Homo sapiens: one gene and its partners. The protein of the gene in region 3 interacts with the protein of the main gene of each other region in a pairwise test. Each region holds a gene or a part of one and is shown on either strand. Other genes may lie near its edges.

Region 1 (7,076 bases), on a different chromosome or scaffold from region 3:
TGCCTCTCCTATGCCTTTGCTTGGCTGCGCCCCTTTGTGCACAAGATGTTTAACTCTTCTTTCCGTCTTTTCTAAAATAGTCAGTCACCTCACCTCTAACGAACCTCCTCCAACTGACCGCATATAAGGCATTATGGGAACAGCGTGTCCAGAGAGGGCAGAGTGTGGACCTGAAACTGCAAAGACGTGGACCAAGGGCGCCCTCTGGCGGCCTCCTGAGACCAGCAGGTCTCTTGCTCTCCCTTCACTTCCTCTTTCACCCCTCCCAGCTCACTCTCCTTTCCGTTCATGCCTTGCGCTCCATGGCCAGCACAGGGCTAGGAGTGAGATGACAACCCGAAGTGCCGGCCCTGTGCCGTTTATGCCGTTCACTGGTTACCTGTTCCAGTTGGACAATATATACCCCAGCTCCTCCTGTCAACTTTCTGCCCTCTCTTACCACCACCACTTTCCGCACTTGCCCCAGGCTACTTTTTGCTTGGGACGAGCTCTCCACCTTTCCTCTCTCAAGCTTAGGCTCCAACTCGCAAGGTTTTTCCAAATCAAGCCCTTTCTCCTGACACTGGTGTCTGCAGCTCTGTCTAGTTTCATCACTTGCTGTTATTTTTCTATGCAGATTCCCAGTTCCCCAGACCCAATTTAGAACCTAAAATAGTTTTTTTGTTTGTTTTTTTGAGACAGGATCTCACTCTGTCGCTCAGGCTGGAGTGCAGTGGCAGTGGTGTGATCTCAGCTCACTGCAGCCTCGACCTCCTGAGTAGCTGGGACTACAGGCATGTACCACACTTGGCTAACTTTTTTGTAGATGAGTTCCGCTATGTTGCCCAGACAGGGCTTGAGTTCCTGGGCTTGAGCGATTCTCCCGCCTCAGCCTCCCAAAGTGCTGGGATTATAGGCAAGTGCCACTGCGCCCGGCTAAAATAGATCTTGACCAATGAAGTTTGTGACACCAGCTAATTGTACCTTCCTGACTTTCACTGCTTCTTCCACCGACAGGGGGCCTTCTTCAACAACTGATAGATTCTCCTCCCTCCCTCCACAAACGTTGGTGTCTTCCCATAGTGATATCCTTTGCTGAAAAATGATTTAGACCTCTCTCCATCCACCTCCCTGCCACCATCAAGCCCCATGCTTCTTACCTGGCCTCGAGCAATCTTGAAGGGTGTGGCATTCACCATGTGCTGCTTCCGGATACCACTCCACCTGGTTCGGTAGTCCACAATGTGGCAGGGGGGAAGAATGTACTCGTCATAAAGCACATCTCCGTTGTAGTTGACAATGCTACATCGAGCCAAGGAACTAACATGCCCCTTTGGTCCTGTGCCCACCATCTCACAGTCAATTGCCACCATCTTCCGTGGCAACTTCTGGGATGCTCCGGAGCATTTATTCTCTGAATGAGCTTGGGTGGAGTTCTGTGGGGCATTCTTCTGAGGATGGTTCTTTTTAGAGGATTTCTTCTGGGAGCTCTTCTTCTGAGAGCGGGTTGGGTGGCTATTGATCTTTGGAAGGGCACTCTGGAACTCCCCCAGCAAATCTACTTTAGCAGCAACAGAATCAGCCTTTTTTGAAGGGGCAGGGGTCAACCAAGACACTGCAGCTTTCTTGTCCAGGGGCTGTCCTGACCCATTGCTGGAAGCAGCTGTCTTCTTTTTTGGGAAGGAAGGGGTCTTCCAAGTGCCATCGACCGTAGGAGTTTCCCCTTTCTTTGAAGGTTCAGAGTGCAACTTAGGCGCCTTGCTAGGGGGTTGGTTCTTTTTACTCAGAAAGCCTCTCCGTTCTAAGAGCCTCCGCTTCTTGACAAAATTTCGGTGCTTGGCATTTCCTTCTAATGCCTTTTTGGGAGGAGGTTCCCCAAAATCCAGATTGAGCAGTAAAGTAGACATAGGGACAATGGAAGGCGGAAGAGTAGTTGGGAAGAGTGGCTTATGGATGAAAAGAGGATGTGGGACTCATTCTCTGCTGAATCCTACTGTCCAACATGTGGAGGTCTGTAGTACACCCTGGGGAAGAAAGTGATCCTGGTAATTGAGCTCCTAGGCCTGGGAGAAAAATGAGGTAAGCTCGATCTCCGTAGGACTTATGGAAGGAAAGACATCAGAGCAATCTCTCAGACAGAGGGGAAATGAAAACATAACATGAAATGATGGAGGGAGCATTGGTGTTAGCCAGCAAGCCTGGATTCTAGTGAAGCCCAATTCACCAGCCATTTGGTCTTAGTAAGGTCATTACCGCGCTCTAGGTTTGAGTCTCATTTGTAAAATGAAGGGAGTGGAGGGGCTTATAGAGCTCGAACCCTCTGAGTCTAAGAGGCTAGAACACGTGCGATCTATACTCCGCCTAGGAAAGGAACATCTAGGTATGCTCAAAAACAGTGAGAAGTATGGCGTAGATAACCTCTGGGCTACCCAGGCATCCGCAGCGTGGACCACCAATAGAGACACAAATCCAGGCATCCCTTTCCCTTGGCTCCAGGCCGGAATTGGGGGCAATCTCCGCATGCATCTCACCCAAGTCCTTCTCCCACGCAAGGACCTTGACACCATCTACCAGCGCGGGGGTGGGATCGAGGCTTGAGGCAGCCCACCTGGATAAGCATACTTCGGATCCCCGCGGTACAGATCGATCTCTCACGCTCACAAACCTACCTCCCAGACGGGTCCAGCTAAGACCGGAAGCGTCCGGAGCCGGATGCGGAAATCGGTGCGCGCCGACGAAGCCCGGGAAGGCAGGCGCGCGGGTTAGAACGCGCCAGAGGTCGGCGCGCGCACACCCGCACCGCCCCGACCCCAGGTAGTGAGGCCAGTGATTCCGAGTGTGTGAGGAGCGGCAGTGGCGGCGGAGGAGGGGGCGGCGTGGGTGGGGGCGGGGGCGGGATGCGCTCCCCGGCCCCTCTAGCCCCGTGGTGGTACAACGCGAAGGTGTGGGAAGGCCGCGATAAACCGGAACTGCAGCCCGCCGGACACCTCCGGCTTCACTTCCGTAAGAGGAGAGGAGTGTACGGCAAGGGGCGGGAACTGGAACTTGGCCCGCCTCGTTGTGAGCTGAGCTCAGCGGCACGCTTTTGTGGCGTCACTGCACTGTTACCCCGCCCTACGTGTCTCTGACGCTGACACCTTCTCACTGTGAAACGTCGCGACCTGTGACGTCTGGGGGGCGCCTCAAATCTTCCACTCCAGCATCGGATCCCGGAAAGGCAGCGTCGGAGACTGGACCCAAAACTCTTCCTGTTCTGCCTGCAGAGTTGAGCCCCGTCCGGGTCCTGGACCCGCGTAGTACTGACCCTGGATCCCTGTTCACTGCGTTCTCGCTCCCCGCGCTCCCTGCTGGACCCCGGGATGCCGGGCATCTCCGCCCGAGGCCTCTCTCATGAGGGGAGGAAGCAGCTAGCTGTTAACCTCACCCGTGTCCTGGCACTCTACCGTTCCATCTTGGATGCCTACATCATCGTGAGGCCACAGGGGCGTGGGTGGGATGTCTCTGGTCGTGTGGTTGGCTAGGTGCCCACGTCAGGGAGAGAATCTGGAGAATTAGCCTCTGATCTCTTTCCTTCTATGAGTTTCAGTCTTTTTCTGTACAAGAAGGGGTTAAAACTGGAGTGATCCCTCCTTTTTTTTCAGCTGACATAAATAATATTTCTTTTTTTTTCTTTTTCTTTTTTTTTTTCTTTTTTTTTTTGAGACGGAGTCTCGCTCTGTCCCCCAGGCTGGAGTGCAGTGGCACGATCTCGGCTCACTGCATAAATAATATTTCTAGTACCTACCTAGATTGTTTTTGTAATCTTCCCAGATCCAAGGTAATAAAATGCGTGGACATTGGAACCATGCTGCAACTATGTTGAACTCTTCTTGGAGCATGTCAGGTGTTCCAAGAACACACGTTATTCATCCAAGCTTTGAATAAATTCGTGGTTTTGTGGTATAGTAGACAGTCCTGGCTCTGGAATCAAAAAGGCTTAGTCTAGAATCCTGCCTCCCCTATGATGTTAACCTTAGGCCTCCCTAACCCCCAACTTGTCCTAGTCCGGGTTTCCTCAGCTATACAATGGATCCCAGTCTGAAGGATTATTGTGAAGAATAAATGAGAGAATGTGTAAATGGCACCACCATCCACTGAATTGTTTAGACCACAAACCCAGAGGCCATCATTGATTCAGTGCTGTCCTTCATTGATCCACAATCCAGTTCTTCAACAAGTCCTCTTGGCTCTGCCTTCGGAATAGATCCCAAATTCATCCATTTGTCCCCACCTCCGTTGCTGCCACCCTAGGCCAAGCCACCATCACCTCTCTTCTGAACTACTTCCTAACCGATCTTGCTGTGTGCTTACCTCTGCCCTGCCATTACCAATTCTTCACTGAGCAGCTAGATTGATAGCATTCAAATGTAAATCTGATCACGACAATCCCTTGCTTCCTAGATACTTTTATGAAATCCTAACTCCTTACTATTACCTATAAAACCCATATTCTGGCTCCTACTGTCTCTTGAACTCTATCCCATTTTATTCTCTCACACATTTCACTGTGCTATACCTCTGCTGGCCTGATTTCTGTTCTGCCAATATGGCAGGCATCTGGACCTTTGCACTCACTGCTCTTCCGCCACAGAAAGGCAATCGCAGAATGGTTAAGAACAAGGACTCTAGAGTAAAATTGGTTTCAAATCCCAGCTCAGGCCGGGTACGATGGCTCACACCTGTAATCCTAGCACTCTGGGAGGCCGAGGTGGGTGGATTGCCTGAGCTCAGGAGTTTGAGACCAGCCTGGGCAACACGGTGAAACCCCGTCTCTACTAAAATAAAATAAAATAAAAAAATAGCTAGGCTTGGCAGCACACACCTGTAGTCCCAGCTACTAGGGAGGCTGAGGCAGGAGAATTGCTAGAACCAGGGAGGCGGAGGTTGCAGTGAGCTGAGATCGCGCCACTGCACTCCAGCCTAGGTGGCAGAGTGAGACTCCATCTCTAAAAATAAATAAATAATCCCAGCTCAGCTATTTGCTAGCTTTTGGACGTGGGCAAGTTACTTAAGTGCTGTGCCTGTTTCTACATCTGTAAAATGGGGGATAAAAAATAATACCTACCTCAAAGTGTTGTTTAAAGGATCAAATGCATTAATACATGTCAAATGTTTACAGCAGTACCTGGCCGAGAAGGTGTTAAATAAGTGTTTGCTATTACCTGTATTTTCTTTACATGCCTAGCACCTATTCATCATTCAAGTCTCAGCTCAAATGTCACCTCAGACAGGTCTTCCCTCATCATCCTATCTAAAGTAGTCCTTGCCCAAACTCTCCATTACATTACTGTTTCATTAGTGTTTTGTCTATATGACATATGATGTTGTCTGAAGTTTTGTTTTGGTTTGTTTTTTTTGAGAGGGAGTTTTGCTCTGCTGCCCAGGCTGGAGTGCAGTGGCACAATCTAGGCTCACTGCAGCCTCTGCCTCCAGGGTTCCAGTGATTCTCCTGCCTCAGCCTACTGGGTAGCTGGGATTACAGGCGTGTGCCAACATGCCTGGCAAATTTTTGTAATTTTAGTCGAGACGGGGTTTCACCATATTGGCCAGGCTGGTCTCGAACTCCTGATCTCAGGTGATCTGCCCGCCTTGGTCTCCCAAAGTGCTGGGATTACAGGCGTGAGCCACCATGCCCGGCCAAAGTTATTATTTTTTTTAATGTAAACTCTGCAGGAGCCAGAATCTTGTCTCAGGTTCACTGTTGTATTCCCTGAGCCTACAATAGAGCTTGATGTATAACCGAAACACAGCCCCAGAATTTGTGGTGGACGAATGAATAAAAAGACACCAGTGTCTGGCACATATAATGCAGGTTACTAAGTGGTAATGTACTAATACTGTGTGTCAGTCACTCTGGTAAGTGTTAGGGATGCAGATGTGAAGATACCATCCCATCCCTCCCCTTAAGAAATTCAATTTAATAGAGAAAACAGACACAAATAAGTGCAGAAATTGCTAAAAGAAGTGTGTCCAGAATGCAATCTGGACTCCAGGGAAACAGAGTTAAGCCACCAGAGTCGGGGAGGCTGGAGCAGGCTTCAGAGAACTGACTCGGCTTAGCAGGAGGTACCTGCCAGTTACAGGCAGTGGCCCTATGTGGCAGCAGTGCTGGGAAGAGGCAGGCAATGAGGTGTGTAGTTGAGAGTGGTGTGGGAAAGAATGGGAGTGGTAGTAGCTTGCTGATGGCTTCTCCCCTTCTTCTGTAGGAATTTTTCACAGACAACCTATGGGACACACTCCCTTGCTCATGGCAGGAAGCATTGGATGGACTGAAACCACCACAGCTGGCCACAATGCTGCTGGGGATGCCTGGGGAAGGGGAGGTCGTCAGGTATGGGCTAGAAGGTCCCTGTGCTGGGGAACTCAAGGCTTTAAGCCCTGCAGTGAGCATATTGCTCAGAGAGTCTCATAAGGTCTTCCTGGGCCTCGGGTTGTAAACTGCTGCACTCAGATGTGATGGGACTATTCACTGGAGGCCTCGGCTGGACTATCTCAGGTACAGGTCAGTGTGGCCACTCACCCTGCTGGCCCTGAAGTCCACGGCGTGTGCCCTGGCCTTTACCCGGATGCCTGGCTTTCAGACCCCCTCAGAATTCCTGGAGAACCCCAGCCAGAGCTCCCGACTAACAGCTCCATTCCGGAAACATGTCAGGCCCAAGAAGCAGCATGAGATCCGGAGGCTGGGAGAGGTGAGGAGATGGCTGGAGCATGGGTGGTGTCTGGGAGCCCAGGGACTCCTTAAGCCTGGCTTACAAATATGTGTGCCCTTTACCTCACATGCAAGGCCAGAGGCCCTAGACATTCCTTTACCTCAACAGACATAACTAATCATATTTTGATGCTGGGGTTCTTTTTCATTCTTTTGTGGGGTTGGTTGGCAGCTAGGTCTGAATCACTGTCTCATTCCTGTTCCCAAATCTCCACAATCTGCTCATGGCTTCACGCAGGGTTCTTGTTCTGTGGGGGAGATTGAATCACTGACCTGTGAGGCAAGGAGAGTGGGCCTGAACCTGGGGTCAGGTCCACTCTCCTTGCTTCCACCCTCACCCTTATATCTT
Region 2 (7,162 bases), on a different chromosome or scaffold from region 3:
TACACATCCATGGCTTTGGTGTAGTCCTTCATCGCTTCCAGCGCAGCGGCTTTCCGTGTATAACCCTTGACTACAAACAGGAAAGGTGGCGCGTTATCCAACCGCAGCGCCCAAGGCTGCTCCTTGCACCTCTTCACCTGCACACCAACACTGTTCACACCTGCTGATGTTGGATCCTAAATCCTACAGGTCCCAAGGACACACAGGTAGACAAAGGGCTTGCCCTTTCCTTCTCTAATCTTTTGGCTAGAGACAGGGGACAGGCAGCAGAAAGGCACTTACTGAAGGTCGGCTCCAGCTGGATACATTCCTCACAGTCCTAGAATGAAGCAACAGAAAGAAATTAGGCTCATTCCCTTGGACAAGCTCAGTACAGGCAACTCAAGCATGTGGACTTCCAACTCTAATGCCTCACCCAGCACCAAACAGAGGGGACAACATCAGGAAAGACAACTCCAGATGATGGATCATCCCACACAAGACAAACTGCCTGGACTCTGCAAGAGGCTGATGTTATGAAAAACACATAGCGGGGGACAATTCCAGTTTGAGAAACTGAAGAGTACATGACAACTAGACAAAATGCGTGGGCCTTGGTCCTGAGAGCTTTGGAATCCAAAACCATTGCTGACTAAAAAACAAAACAACGCTGGGTGCGGTGGCTCATGCCTGTAATCCCAGCACTCTGGAAGGCCAAGGTGGGTGGATCACCTGAGGTCAGGAGTTTGACACCAGCCTGGCCAACATGGTGAAACCCCATCTCTACTAAAAAAAAAAAAAAAAAAAAAAAAAAATTTGCTGGCCTGGTGGCTGCACCTGTAATAATCCCAGCTACTCAAGAGACTGAGGCAAGAGAATCGCTTGAATCCAGGAGGCAGAGGTTGCAGTGAGCCAAGATCACGCCATTGCACTCCAGCCTGGGCAACAAGAGTGAAACTCTGTCTCAAAAAAAAATAAAAACAAACAAACAAAAATAAAAAAACCTCAGTTTTAAAACATATTTTTGGAGAAGTGGGCAAGTCTAAGTATGGATGGACAGACGGCAGATGGCATCAGGCCTTGGTCTGGTGAGGTCGCGTGTGCTGACAGTGCTGCACTGGACAGGAGTCTTTTCAGGCAATGCGTGCACAAGACTTGGATGTCTCATTCTAAGTACCAAATGTATACAATTTCCTTTCGCAAACAGTTCAGCAAAAACAGGTCAACATTTGTCAGATAAAGGTGGAAGATACACCAGATATTCACTATGTATTCTTCTCTTTGAAACATCTTCAAAGTGAGAAATGATGAGGAAGAGAACACTATGCAGTACACTGAGCTCCCCTGGAATTAATTCCAACTCTTGCACCAAGAAGCTGGGACAGCAGCAGAAATCCCATTCATTCTTTCTCCACGCTCTCATGATCGGGAAAGTACTGCCCACCTCCCAGGTGATTGACAACCTGCTATTCTTTGCCTCACAAATCAATATGCTTTTGACATGACTCTTGCACAATCCTACTAGTAGAAATGATGTCTCTAGGCCAAGACACAGACCCAGAAGACAGTGGCACAAAATATAAAAACCAACACAAACCCAGGTATGGCTGTTTCTAGACAGGTCACACTTTGTCACCTTCCCACAATACGGTCCAGGTTTGTCAGCTAGAGAACAGTCAAAAAAAACTGCTGATAGAGGCAGGGTGGCTGAGATTCGAGAGGATTATGGGAACTCCACAGTGTCAAACAATTGTATTTGACCTAACTTGATATGACTGAGAACAGCAGACCTACCTAGCTGAGCAAAACAGAAAAGCAAGCAAGGATGGTACAGCTGCTGAAAAACATATGGTGGTTCCTCAAAAATAAAACATAGGCCGGGCGCAGTGGCTCATGCCTGTAATCCCAGCACTTTGGGAGTCCAAGGCAGGAGGCTCGCTTGAGCCCAGGAGTTTGAGACCAGCCTGGGAAAACATGGTGAAACCCTGTCTCTATAAAAAATACAAAAATTAGCTGGGTACAGTGGTGCACACCTGTAGTCCCAGCTACTCAGGAGGCTGAGGTGGGAGGATGGTTTAAGCCAGGGAAGTAGAGGTTGCAGTGAGCTGAGATTGTGCCACTGTACTCCAGCCAGCCTGGGCGATAGAGCCAGACCTTGTCTTTTTTTTTTTTTTTTTTTAAAAAAAGGGGGCCAAGCGTGGTGGTTCACGCTTGTAATCCTAGCACTTTGGGAGGCTGAGGCGGGTGGATCACCTGAAGTCAGGAATTCAAGGCCAGCCTGGCCAACATGGTAAAACCCCGTTTCTACTAAAATACCCGGGAGATGGTGGTTGCAGTGAGCCGAGATTGTGCCACGGCACTCCAGTGTGGGCAGCTGAGTGAGACTGTCTCAAACAAACCAACAAAAAAAGTAAACACAGACACCACATGACCCAGCAATTCCACTTCTTAAAAATGGTTAAAAAGGCAAAAACAAAGAAAAAAGAGGAAGGTTACAGGGGTGAAAGGACCCACCTTCCAATGTACTGCCAACCAGTAGTGACTCCATGGACCAGGACCAGTTAGATAGATACAGGTCCCATATTTTACACACACACACACACACACACACACACACACACACACGACCAGTTAGATACAGGTCCCATATTTTACACACGCACACACACATACACACACACACCCCTATAAATCTGGGCAACACAGCAAGACCCCAACTCTACAAAAAAAATAAAAAATGTAGCAGGATGTGGAGGCATGAGCCTGTGGTCCTAGCTCCTCAGGAGGCTGAGGCAGGACAGAGTGAGACACTGTCTCAAACATCATGATCATCATCAACTCAATGTTGATGAGGAGAGAGAGAGAAAACCCACTCCTCATGTGCAGGCTTTCAGTAATGGCCGCCCCCACAGGTCTCGTCACCTTGAGTGCCAGCTGGAACTCCAGGAGTTTGGTGTAGCAGGCAGCTCGATTGCTGTATAATTTGGCATCTTTCGGGTTCCTTTTGATGGCTTCTGTATAATGCTTCATGGCCTGGGGATAGTCCCCTGGGGAAGAAAAACAAAGACTGTCTTTTAAAAAGCAAAAAGCCCCCATGTGTAGCCGGCCATTTACCCCACAGCCAGGCACGGGAGGCACACCCAGCACTGCTCCCCCAATCCCCCAGCTGCAGGCAGTACCTTTCTGAAAACACTCGTTGCCTTTGTTCTTCTCCTCCAAAGCCAGGTCGGGGTTTATGTAGGCCAGCCGCTCTTGCTCCTTCAGGATTTTCTCTGCCTACAAAACATAATTCTTGAAATAATAATTTAAACGCTCATAATCATCTAAATATTGGGCTTAAAAATCACATTAGGGGCCGGGCGCGGTGGCTCACGCCTGTGATCCCAGCACTTTGGGAGGCCGAGGCGGGTGGATCACGAGGTCAGGAGATCGAGACCATCCTGGCTAACATGGTGAAACCCTGTCTCTACTAAAAATATAAAAAATTAGCCTGGTGTGGTGGCGGGAGCCTGTAGTCCCAGCTACTCGGGAGACTGAGGCAGGAGAATGGCGTGAACCCGGGAGGCGGAAGCTTGCAGTGAGCCGAGATCGCGCCACTGCACTCCAGCCTGGGTGACAGAGCGAGACTCCATCTCAAAAAAAAAAAAAATCAGATTAGGATTTTAATTTTCAGAGTATTGCTGGCAAGATTTTTTTCTTTTTTTTTTTTGAGATAGAGTCTCGCTCTGTCGCCCAGGCTGGAGTGCAGTGGCGCGATCTCGGCTCACTGCAAGCTCTGCCTCCCGGGTTCAACGCCATTCTCCTGCCTCAGCCTCCCGAGTAGCTGGGACTGCAGGCGCCCACCACCATACCAGGCTAATTTTTTTTATTTATTTAGTAGAGACAGAGTTTCACCGTGTTAGCCAGGATGGTCTCGATCTCCTGACCTCTTGATCCGCCCACCTCGGCCTCCCAAAGTGCTGGGATCGCAGGCGTGAGCCACTGCGACTGGCTATTGCTGGCAAGATTTTTTTTTTTGAGATGGAGTCTCACTCTCACCCAGGCTGGAGTGCAGTGGCATGATCTCGGCTCACTGCAACCTCCGCCCCACTGAGTTCAAGCGATTCTCCTGCCTCATCCTCCTGAGTAATTGGGATTACAGGCGCCTGCCACTGCGCCCAGCTAATTTTTTCGTATTTTTAGTAGAGACGGGGTTTCACCATCCTGGCCAGGCTGGTCTTGAACTCCTGACCTTGTGATCCACCCACCTCAGCCTCCCAAAGTGCTGGGATTACAGGCGTGAGCCACTGCACCCGGCTATTGCTGGCAAGATTTTAAAAGAAATTTACAGTCTTTATAAAATAGTCAAAATGTTATGTTACAAGAACTATTAACATTCTCAATGCACAGGCCCTCAATATTAACACATTTAGGGTTGAAATCTTGGCCAATACCAAAAACTGCAAAAAAAAAAAAAAAAAAACCACAAAAAAAAACACCAGATCACTTCCTACATGTTGTCACTGTTAAATGACAGAGAAAGAATCATGTAAGATGACCAAAGCCACTACCTAAAAAAAGATCAGGTTCAGCCAGGCATAGTGGCTTACGCCTATAATTCCAGCACTTTGGGAGGCTGAGGAGGGCGGATCACTTGAGTTCAGGAGTTCAAGACCAACCTGGGCAACACAGTGAGACCCCTTCTCTACAAATAAAAAAATTAGCTGGACGTGGCCAGGCGCAGTGGCCTGTAATCCCAGGACTTTGGGAGGTTGAGGTGGGTGGATCATGAGGTCAGGAGTTTGAGACCAGCCTGGTCCATATAATGAAACCCCATCTCTACTAAAAATACAAAAATTAGCCGGGCATAGTGGCGTGCACCTGTAGTCTTAGCAATTCGGGAGGCTGAGGCAGGAGAATTGCTTGAACCTGGGAGGCGGAGGTTGCAGTGAGCAGACACCATGCCACTGCACTCCAGCCTGGGTGACAAACAGACTCCATCTCAAAAAAAAAATTAGCTGGACGTGGTGGCACGTGCCTGTAATCCTAGCTACTCAGGCTGAGGTGGGAAGATCACTGAAGCCCAGGAGGTTGAGGCTGCAGTGAGCCACGATTGTGCCACTGTCTTTCAGCCTGGGTGAAAGAGTGAGACCCTATCTCAAAAAAAAAAAAAAGTCAAGTTCATTATTAAATAAAACAGTAAGAAACAATGGCTCAATTATTAGGAAAACAAGAAAATACCCCTATTCTTTTCCTACGCACCTGCTGGCATTTCTTGAGCACATCTGGGGTTCGGTGCTCTGCCAGAGACTTGTTATAGAAATGGATGGCATCCTTGTACTTTTCTTCTTTGAAGTAGGAGTTGCCAATTCGAGCATATGCTCTGATAAAGAAAGAGGGACAAGGACTGCTTAGGACAGAGAGATAAAGTCAGCTCCTGCAGAAAAACACACCTGCAGCTAGAAAGGCCCGCATCACTGCCTTCAACACCTTTTGTCTTGTCTCTGGTGACCTTCTTGCCAGCCCTTTCTTAACACAGCAGATTCTATGGCCAGCAGCCCTCCTCCCCATGCAGAGAAACTTAAGTCTTGGACAGCAAACCCTCCGCGCTACTCAAGGTATTCTGGAAGGTTGAGCCTACTTGGCAATCTGTCGATAGTCTTCTCGGTTTTCTCTCCCCACTTCAATGGCCTTCTCACAAAGCTCCCGGCACTTATTGTAGTCGCCCTTTTCAAAGTATACCGCTGCCAGGCAGGATGGTTAAGAAGGAACAGTCAGTCTTTGCTTCCTCCCTCAGAGACACCCAACAATTCCCTTGCCCCTTGTTTCTGGGCCTCACCTGCTTGATTGGTAATGTAAGTCATGTTAGTGGGGTCCAGCTCCTTGGCTTTGTCGTAATGCTTCAAGGCTGTGTCAAAGTCTTTCTTCTTGTAGGCATCGTTCCCCAGCTCTTTTTCTTTCAGTGCCTAGATGAGGTTTAGAAGTGAGTGCTGAGCAAATCTAACTCAGGTGACAAAGCAAGAATCTATGATCTGTCACAAGTTCTGAAATGCAACTAACATGAATAGAATTCTATCAAGTTCTCCTGAAGGCCTCTTCATCAGTCAGCTATAGACAATAAAGTATCAGCCGTTAGAATGAAAACTAACTTCATCTTTGCTTGCTCTGAAACTCCCCCTTTTCCACCTACTCTCCTAGATCTTTGTCAGGAAGCAGAGCGCTTCTTTAGGGGAGAGGAAATCCCTTCGACTTGAAGCAACCGGTGAGGACAGCAGAGTTTTGGACCAGGCTTTATTCTGAGGCTGCAGCAGATCTGGTGTCAGTCTTGTGGTTGCCTCAGGGTCTTAGTTGTCAGGGAACCATAGCAGAGGGGGTGGTGAGAGGATGAGAAGCGGCTGAGTGGCACGAGTCTTCAGCAAAGCTCACTACCGCCCACACTGGAGGGCCTTTTTCCAGCTGAGACACCCTAAACAACCAACGCTTACCCATTTCAAGGTGCTAAATTTGGCAACAATCTGCTGTTCCAGTTTACAAGGAGGGAAATGAAATCGTTGAGGCACATGCCTTCTGCTCTAAAAGAGTGCTGCTTAGCGGACACTCCCAACCACACACCATGTCCAGCCAGGAAGCAAAGGCCTAGGGATTGATGTGGACAACATTCTTCGGATCACGACAAGGACGTGAATTACTCTCAACTTTCCAGTCTTGCTAGGACCAACATTCACACTGGCAGCAATGAAGCCGCTGTGGTGACCACGGGAAGGGCAACTCCCGCAGCTCACTCTTTGCTACACATTACTCCTAGGAATGCTCTTGTGAAGCTTTTTTTTTTTTTTTTTTTGAGATGGAGTCTCGCTCTGTCACCCAGCCTGGAGTGTAGTGATGAGCTCTCAGCTTATTGCAACCTCTGCCTCCCGAGTTCAAGCGATTCTTCTGCCTCAGCCTCCCGAGTAGCTGGGACTACAGGCGCCCACCATGACACCTGGCTAATTTTTGTGTTTTTAGTGAAGATGAGGTTTCACCATGTTGGCCAGACTGGTCTTGAACTCCTGACCTCAGGTGATCTGCCCACCTTGGCCTCCAAAAGTGCTGGGATTATAGGCATGAGCCACCGTGCCTGGCCTGAAGCTGATTTTTTAACATGCTGGCCATTCTAATGAATAATAGCCATAAGCTTAGCGCATACTAAAGCACTCAAAATAGT
Region 3 (7,162 bases):
CATTCTTTTAGTGTTTTACTTTCCTAATAAACTTGCTTTCACTTTACTCTATGGACTTGCCTTGAATTCTTACAAGAGATCCAAGAACTCTCCCTTGGGGTCTGGATCGGGACCCCTTTCCAGTAGCAGGATGGCAGAGACAGACACGCTGGAGCCACCCTTGAAAGAAGCAGGTGAAATTCAAGGCCAGAGCACATAAACTGCCTTAAGGAAAGTGAGGACGATATCTCTGGGGGCCTGTTTTCATCACCAAACCCATGTGGCTGGAGATGTCTGATTGGAAGGAAGTGTGTGTCCCTGATGAGACATGCATATGACCTCTGACTGAGGGGTTCTGGGAAGCAGGAATGTTTCAGAGTCCAAATCTGTACATACACCCAGGCAGGTATCGAGTGTGTCAACTCCCCCTCTTCAACCCTGAGTTGATTCTCTACTTCCTGTGGAAGAAGACAGCAATATCCACAGGGCACATACTTACAGATTTTGAGAATGCAATACAGGTGACTGCTCGGTCAAAAAAACCTATTCCAATGACGTGGAGAGTATTCAATGTCACAGAATCCCAGATGCGCACATGTGGGGGCAATTGCTGTTCAGAAAAGAAACACAGAGCCATCAATTGTGATGGTGATACACATGTGTCTTTACCTTGAAGCTACAAGATTACTTGGGCAGTAACTCGGACTTTGTCAAAACAAAAGATCTTTTTCTGCATTTCAGGAGTCTGCCTTTTTATGTAAATAAAACATTCCCGATGACTTCAGGAGGTGGAGGGCCTTGTTGATAATTTAACAGTAAGGAGAGGTCTACCAAGTTTTAGAATTTGAATGGCCAATTTTTGACAATAGTACCATGGGAACTGACACTTTAATTTGTGCATCTAAATGTGTCTGAATTTTAGAAATGAAAAATGACAAGTAAAATGGAATCTCACATATGGGTTATTCTTTTAAAGTCTGTTTTGTTGCTAAGGTGTCACCATGCCTAAATTCATAAGATGGTCACCACCAAATAATATTAAGAGCTTAACAGACCAGGTGTGGTGGCTCACGCCTGTAATCCCAGCACTTTGGGAGGCTGAGGCAGGTGGATCGCCTGAGGTCAGGAGTTCGAGACCAGCCTGACCAACATGGTGAAACCCTGTCTCTACAAAATACAAAAAATTAGCCGGGCGTGGTAGTGCATGCCTGTAATCCCAGCTACTTGGGAGGCTGAGGCAGGAAATCGCTTGAACCCGGGAGGTGGAGGTTGCAGTGAGCCAAGATTGCACTACTGCACTCCAGCCTGGGCAACAAGAGCAAAACTCTGTCTCAAAAAAAAAAAAAAAAAAAAAAAAGAGCTTAATATTCTTGGGCAAAACAGGCATCAATTATGTACAAATAAGATTTAGAATTGTTATAATTGGTTTAAAATCCTCTCAACTGTGTTCCTAGGTTATTTACGCTAATTTTTCTCTTCCTTAATAGAAGAAAACATCATAGAGCAATCAGTAGATTTATCAGTAAGAAAAGGTGCTGGCCTTGGACCTAGTAGAAACACTAGGCAGGCGTTAGGTGAACCAAGTTCTAGTTCAGTCTAATCTCTAAGCAGCTGGGTGTCCGCGGGCATTCACTAGGCCTCTCTGGATTTCTCTATGGGTAAACTGAAAGATAACTATAATATTTTTCTCTAGTTCTAAAGTACCGATTCAATTTCAATGCCAGAAACTGAAATATACTTTTAAGCCACTAGAGGGAGGAACAAATAGCTTACCACTAATTTCAAAGAATTTTTCAAAGCCATTTAACATTAAAAAAAAAAAAATTGAAAGACCCATTCAATTTAAGTAAATTTATTTACATAATAGTGGTCTGATTTCCATTATTTCTGTTAACTCTTTTCAAGTATAAAATATTAATGCAGGTCAGGCGCAGTGGTTCACGCCAGTAATCCCAGTACTTTGGGAGGCTGAGGTGGGCAGATCGCTTGAGCCCAGAAGTTTGAGACCAGCCTGGGCGATGTGGTGAAACGCTGTCTCTACCAAAAATACAAAAATTAACCGGGCGAGGTGGCGTGTGCCTGTACTCCCAGCTACTCAGGAGGCTGAGGTGGGAGGATCACTTGAGCCTGTGGGGGCAGAGGTGGCAATGACCCGTGATTGTGCCACTGCATTCCAGCCTGGGTGACAGAGTGAGACCCTGTCTCAAGAAAAAAAAAAAAATTAATGGAAAATAGCATAAGATTAATATTTAAAATCCAATGTTACTAAAATATTTTCTGAAATATGGTAGTATTCATTTTTTCTGGATGAAAACATGTTGATAAAATGTATGTACTTAAATTAGTTTCAGATAAAATATTATGCAATAACAAGCTATATAAAAGTAGATATCAAAAAAGCTACAAGCTCCCTCTCTAACGCCTTAAAATGCAAATTAAAGTCTTGCTGAAGTGCTTGCAAAATCTGTGCTAAAAACCTCCTAGTAGCTTTTGTGACTGCACACAGACACAAACTTCACGGGTTAAAGTCACGACTGTTAAACGACATTCACAGGACAGGGCAGAGGGTGGCTGAAATTTGGCAAAATGTTGTACATTCAAATTATTATTATAATTTTAACTTTATTAAATGTTTACCTTCATATTTTTAATACTTATCATATAAATAAACATTTTAAGAATTAGCGAATTCTTTGTTCAGAACAATGCTATTTAAAAATCTGATGAAATTAAGATGAGCTCCAGGGATTTTTAAGGTCACAGTCAGTATTTTTTTTTTTTTTTTTTGAGACTTAGTCTCTCTCTGTCACCCAGGATGGAGTGCAGTGGCATGATCTTGGCTCACTGCAACCTCCGCCTCCCGGGTTCAAGTGATTCTCCTGCTTCAGCCTCCAGAGTAGCTGGGACTACGGTCATGTGACACCACGCCTGGCTAATTTTTGTATTTTTGGTAGAGACGGGTTTCACTATGTTGGCTAGGCTGGTCTCAAACTTCTGACCTCAAGAGATCCAGCCTGCCTTGGCATCCCAAAGTGCTGGGATTACAGGCGTGAGCCACCGCACCCTGCCACACAATAAGTCTTCTAATTTACAATAAAAAATTCTAGTGAGGGGTTCAGAAGTTTTCAGATACCATAATTATATCTAAGCAGCCTTACTCAGCAGCACAATGTTTTCTAAAAATTACTTTGTGTTACCAGTTCATTATGAAACAATGAAAAGGTAACGTAACTCACTTTTCCATCCTTCGATGTGCCCGCAACTTGTCCTGTTGCTATCGTGATCCGATCAGGATGAACTGCTAGGCTAAGAAAAGGATATTTACAAAACATCTACATGTTGCAGGTAAGTTTTACTTTTCCCTTGCTCAAATATAATCTAGTCAAAAATTTAAATATAAGAAATATATAATGCCTAACTTCTTACAGACTCATGACAAATTCTCTGAGCACCACGACGTTAGACAACTAGTACCTAATTCATTTCATCTTAATTCCCTTATTTCTTCTTAAGAATTTTCAAACTGAAGGAAAAAGCATCCTCTGCTGGGAAAATACCATTTCAATCTCAGAACCACTACATTAGTCTACAATCTTTATTAAAAAGTCATGTTGAGTACATAAATAGGAAAGATACCATCTTTCGTGAACAGGATTTTTATCATTGACCAAGGAACCAGGACAAATACAAATATATAAATCCATCTCTTCACGCATCCATCCTTCCAAGATATGTAATATGCCTACCAAAAGCTATAAATGAATTATGGGAAGAGCCGACTCAGCCACAAACATGAGGCAACACATTTTTATGTTTATCAAAAAATAAAGACCCAAATTAGAAGCCTTTAATACATGATGTGTTAAGAAGGCCTCCAAAGAGGTGGCGCTGTTTGTTGAGACAATGTGGTCCGTGAAGCTCATGCGTTGGTGAGGCTGGAAAATTAAACATGAGAGGGGTCTCACGGAGCGCAGTAGTGAGCGGACCACAAGGAGACCACACAGAAGAGCTCTCCCAAAGACCTCATTTCCTCAGACCCTCTTCCTTCTCTTTAGTTATGTCCCAATACTGACCGTGTTCTGCTAATGCTATTTCCACCTGTGCAACAGGAATCACATTTATTTATTTATTTATTTTAGAGACAGGGTTTCACTGTTGCCCAGGATGGTCTGGAACTCCTGGCCTCAAGCGATCCTCCTACCTTCGCCTTCTGAGTCGCAGGAATGACCTGTTTCAGGACTTACCACTTCACGTCATCGTTGTGGCCAGCGTAATGCCTCTGCAGTTGCTCCTCCACGTTGTATAACACCACCACGGATGCGATGAAGTAGACGGTCTCTCCCGTCGGAAGCAAGTACAGGTTGTTACGGCAGTCTCGACCCCTGTACCCATAGCTTTGTGGATGTCAAGATAAAATTTTTTTTCCCTTTAAGAGCTGACAAAACATCAGCTTTATTCAACAGGCACAGGCAATAAAATACCATATAACTATTACCATCAGCATCACTAATTTAAACAACATTAAATTGCAAATATTCCATGACAAATACATGTGACCCCCAAAAGGCATGCAGTAAAGTTGAAACAGTCATTGATGTAATGTGAATACATATTTTCACAATGATTTGGTTTTATTTTTAGAAAGCTATTGAGTCAATTATTAATTTTTTTACTGTAATCTACGAGCTAAATTTTTACTAAAAAATTCCTTTTTTAAACATGGTAAAAGTACTTACAAAGGGTACAAATGACACACACACATGCACACAAACATACATAAAAGGTAAAAAAAAAAAAATCAGGCCCCTCAGATCCTTTGGGATAAGAATCCCTGTTAAAATTTTTGCATTATATTTCCAAACCTTGAAAATTATTTTATTTTGAGAACAAAATATCACTTCAACTTGGATGTAAAAAGTAACCCGGCAAGATGCCAAATAATGGCCAAAAAAATGCCATTTATTTAGAGCAAATTTCATTGCTTTACATCTTCTAAAATATGAACAGGAAGTAGGCTGAATAAATGTTTTGAATAATGTTTTCCAGATGTGATATAACCGTTTAATAAACCACTACTGACTTAAAGACGAGCTGAAGCACTTCAATTTCATGTATCAAGATAGATTCCAAAACAGGTGCAGGTAAATGCCTATGACATTTGAATCTGGAAAAAAAAAAAGTATTTTGGGGGAGAAATTTAGGTACAGGTGGTAATTTTAAAAAATTTCTAAGGAATATGATTCCATAATCTCAAATAGTAATTATTCTAAATGAAGTCACAATAGCTTAAATTTAAACCAACATCTTATAATTTGTGTTCCAGGCTTGGCATTAAACAGGTACTCAAATATTTGAAGGTGAAAAAAAATTTTTTTTTTCCCTTAAAATCTGCATAGACTGAAAGGTGGTCTCTGCAGGATTCCTCTAAAGTAATAAGAAAATGGAAAAATAATCAACAATTAATTCACCTTTTTCACAGTTTCTATTTTCTTATCTTTCAGTTGTTTTTTCCCCTGGAAGCTCACTTTTCCAAACCTCATGCCATGAAGCTACCAGCACCTCTGTTTCAAGAACGTTAGTTATATGGTTGATTCAGATTTTTGTGGCCTAGATTTTTGGGGAGCCTTTTTGATTGATATGAATATATGTATTTTTGAGACAGGGACTTGCCAAGTTACCCAGGCTGGACTTGAACTCCTGGATCCTTCCATCTAAGCCTCTTGAACAGCTGGGACTACAGGGATGCATCCCTGTAGCTAGTTTTTTTTTTTTTAAAGTAGGATGATATCTACGTGATATGTCAATTTCATTTACGTCATTCACTTGACTCCCTTCATTCAGTACTTTGGTATTCATATTTTTCTATCATCCCTTCAGTCAAGGTCACACTTGAAGTTTGGCTCCTAAGGCTGGCCAAGTCCATACTTGGTTTAAGGGGAGAATGCTAGTCCTCCTTTCAGAGTACCCCTCTTTCTTTGGGTTTAAAAACTTTTTTGCCAATGTGGTTTAGTTTCAATTTTGGATACTCCCATTTCCTCAATCATAAGGACAATATTTTCTTGCATTGTCACTGTTGTTTCCTTATAAATATAGAGAGTGCCTAGTTTTCCATCTGTCCCTGAAGAGTTGACTAAGTATATGATAGCTCCTGTTAAAAATAATTGGCTTTTGGCTGGGCATGGTGGCTCATGCCTATAATCCCAGCACTTTGGGAAGCTGAGACGAGCAGATTGCTTGAGTCCAGGAGCTCAAGAACAGCTGGGGCAACATAGGGAGAGACTATCTCTTAAAAAAAAATCAGTTCTCATTAGAATCTAAAATTCTACCCATTCTTGATTATTTTCACTGTTCACTTCTTTATATATTTCTAACTACTATTGTCATTCTTTTGGAAAGAATAAAATTCGGACCAGAAACTAGTGATTCATTTTCTCCTGACAAAGAAAAAAATCACTCATACAATCATATAACATCTTCATATTTTCTTTTCAGCAAAATAATGAACATGTATTTGAGCCAGAACCACAGCTATTTCGTTCAGGAATGATAAGTTGGTTCTCCTGATAATAAGCCGCTCTTATGAAGCTCCTACTTTGTTAGAACTCTGTAGGTCTCTAACATATAGTCAATTTTGTTACATTAAGTTTTCAAAAGTAACAGTAAAACATTTTGTTTTTTAAAAGCTTAAGAGGACTTAAGTTTTATGAATTTCTACAGTTAACATCAAGCATTGATTGACTGATAACTTCATGTGAGACCTAATCAATGAATAAAGGATACACCCATTCCAGCTTGAGTCTCTTGGTTGGAAGTTCTACTTTTGCTTCCAAGCTGTAAGAATCCACTTGATCTTTGGGCATGTACATGGTAACAGGGCGTCCACGAAGAAACATTTTTACATAGCCTTCTTCTACAAAAAGAACAAAGATTTCAGTAAGATACCTCAGTGCCCAGCGTACCTGAAAACAAATGCTTTATCCTCTCTAGCCTTTCAGTATAAAAGAGAAACTTTTACCCTTCTGTCATTCTAATTGATATCCTAGGGAAAAAAGTAACATAAAAATAAACAGTTTGAAACAAAAGTTTGCATCTTGTTTGCTTTTGATATTCTGTTTACTTAAGTACATGAGATACCTACGAAATTGTAAAAGGCAGGAAGGAACTTGATTCCAACAATGATTTT

What was found.
Region 1: the proteins of EML1 (region 3) and ISG20L2 interact in binary tests that used the Homo sapiens proteins (3 or more experiments, as listed by UniProt).
Region 2: the proteins of EML1 (region 3) and STIP1 interact in binary tests that used the Homo sapiens proteins (3 or more experiments, as listed by UniProt).

Annotation. Positions count from the first base shown.
Region 1 is NC_000001.11:156,725,767-156,732,842, forward strand, and holds the start of ISG20L2 (interferon-stimulated 20 kDa exonuclease-like 2), read right to left. Parts: upstream 3,001-7,076; 5' UTR 2,649-3,000; exon of another isoform or gene 2,004-2,648; 5' UTR 1,887-2,003; coding exon 1,140-1,886; exon of another isoform or gene 1-1,139. Other genes in the region: METTL25B (methyltransferase-like protein 25B), read left to right, coding at 3,339-3,449, 6,225-6,349, 6,515-6,707. UniProt on the Homo sapiens protein: 3'-> 5'-exoribonuclease involved in ribosome biogenesis in the processing of the 12S pre-rRNA. Displays a strong specificity for a 3'-end containing a free hydroxyl group.
Region 2 is NC_000011.10:64,196,033-64,203,194, reverse strand, and holds part of STIP1 (stress-induced-phosphoprotein 1), read right to left. Parts: intron 5,925-7,162; coding exon 5,798-5,924; intron 5,703-5,797; coding exon 5,600-5,702; intron 5,342-5,599; coding exon 5,221-5,341; intron 3,256-5,220; coding exon 3,159-3,255; intron 3,027-3,158; coding exon 2,902-3,026; intron 320-2,901; coding exon 283-319; intron 71-282; coding exon 1-70. UniProt on the Homo sapiens protein: Acts as a co-chaperone for HSP90AA1. Mediates the association of the molecular chaperones HSPA8/HSC70 and HSP90.
Region 3 is NC_000014.9:99,894,356-99,901,517, reverse strand, and holds part of EML1 (echinoderm microtubule-associated protein-like 1), read right to left. Parts: intron 6,890-7,162; coding exon 6,760-6,889; intron 4,374-6,759; coding exon 4,224-4,373; intron 3,286-4,223; coding exon 3,216-3,285; intron 590-3,215; coding exon 479-589; intron 1-478. UniProt on the Homo sapiens protein: Modulates the assembly and organization of the microtubule cytoskeleton, and probably plays a role in regulating the orientation of the mitotic spindle and the orientation of the plane of cell division.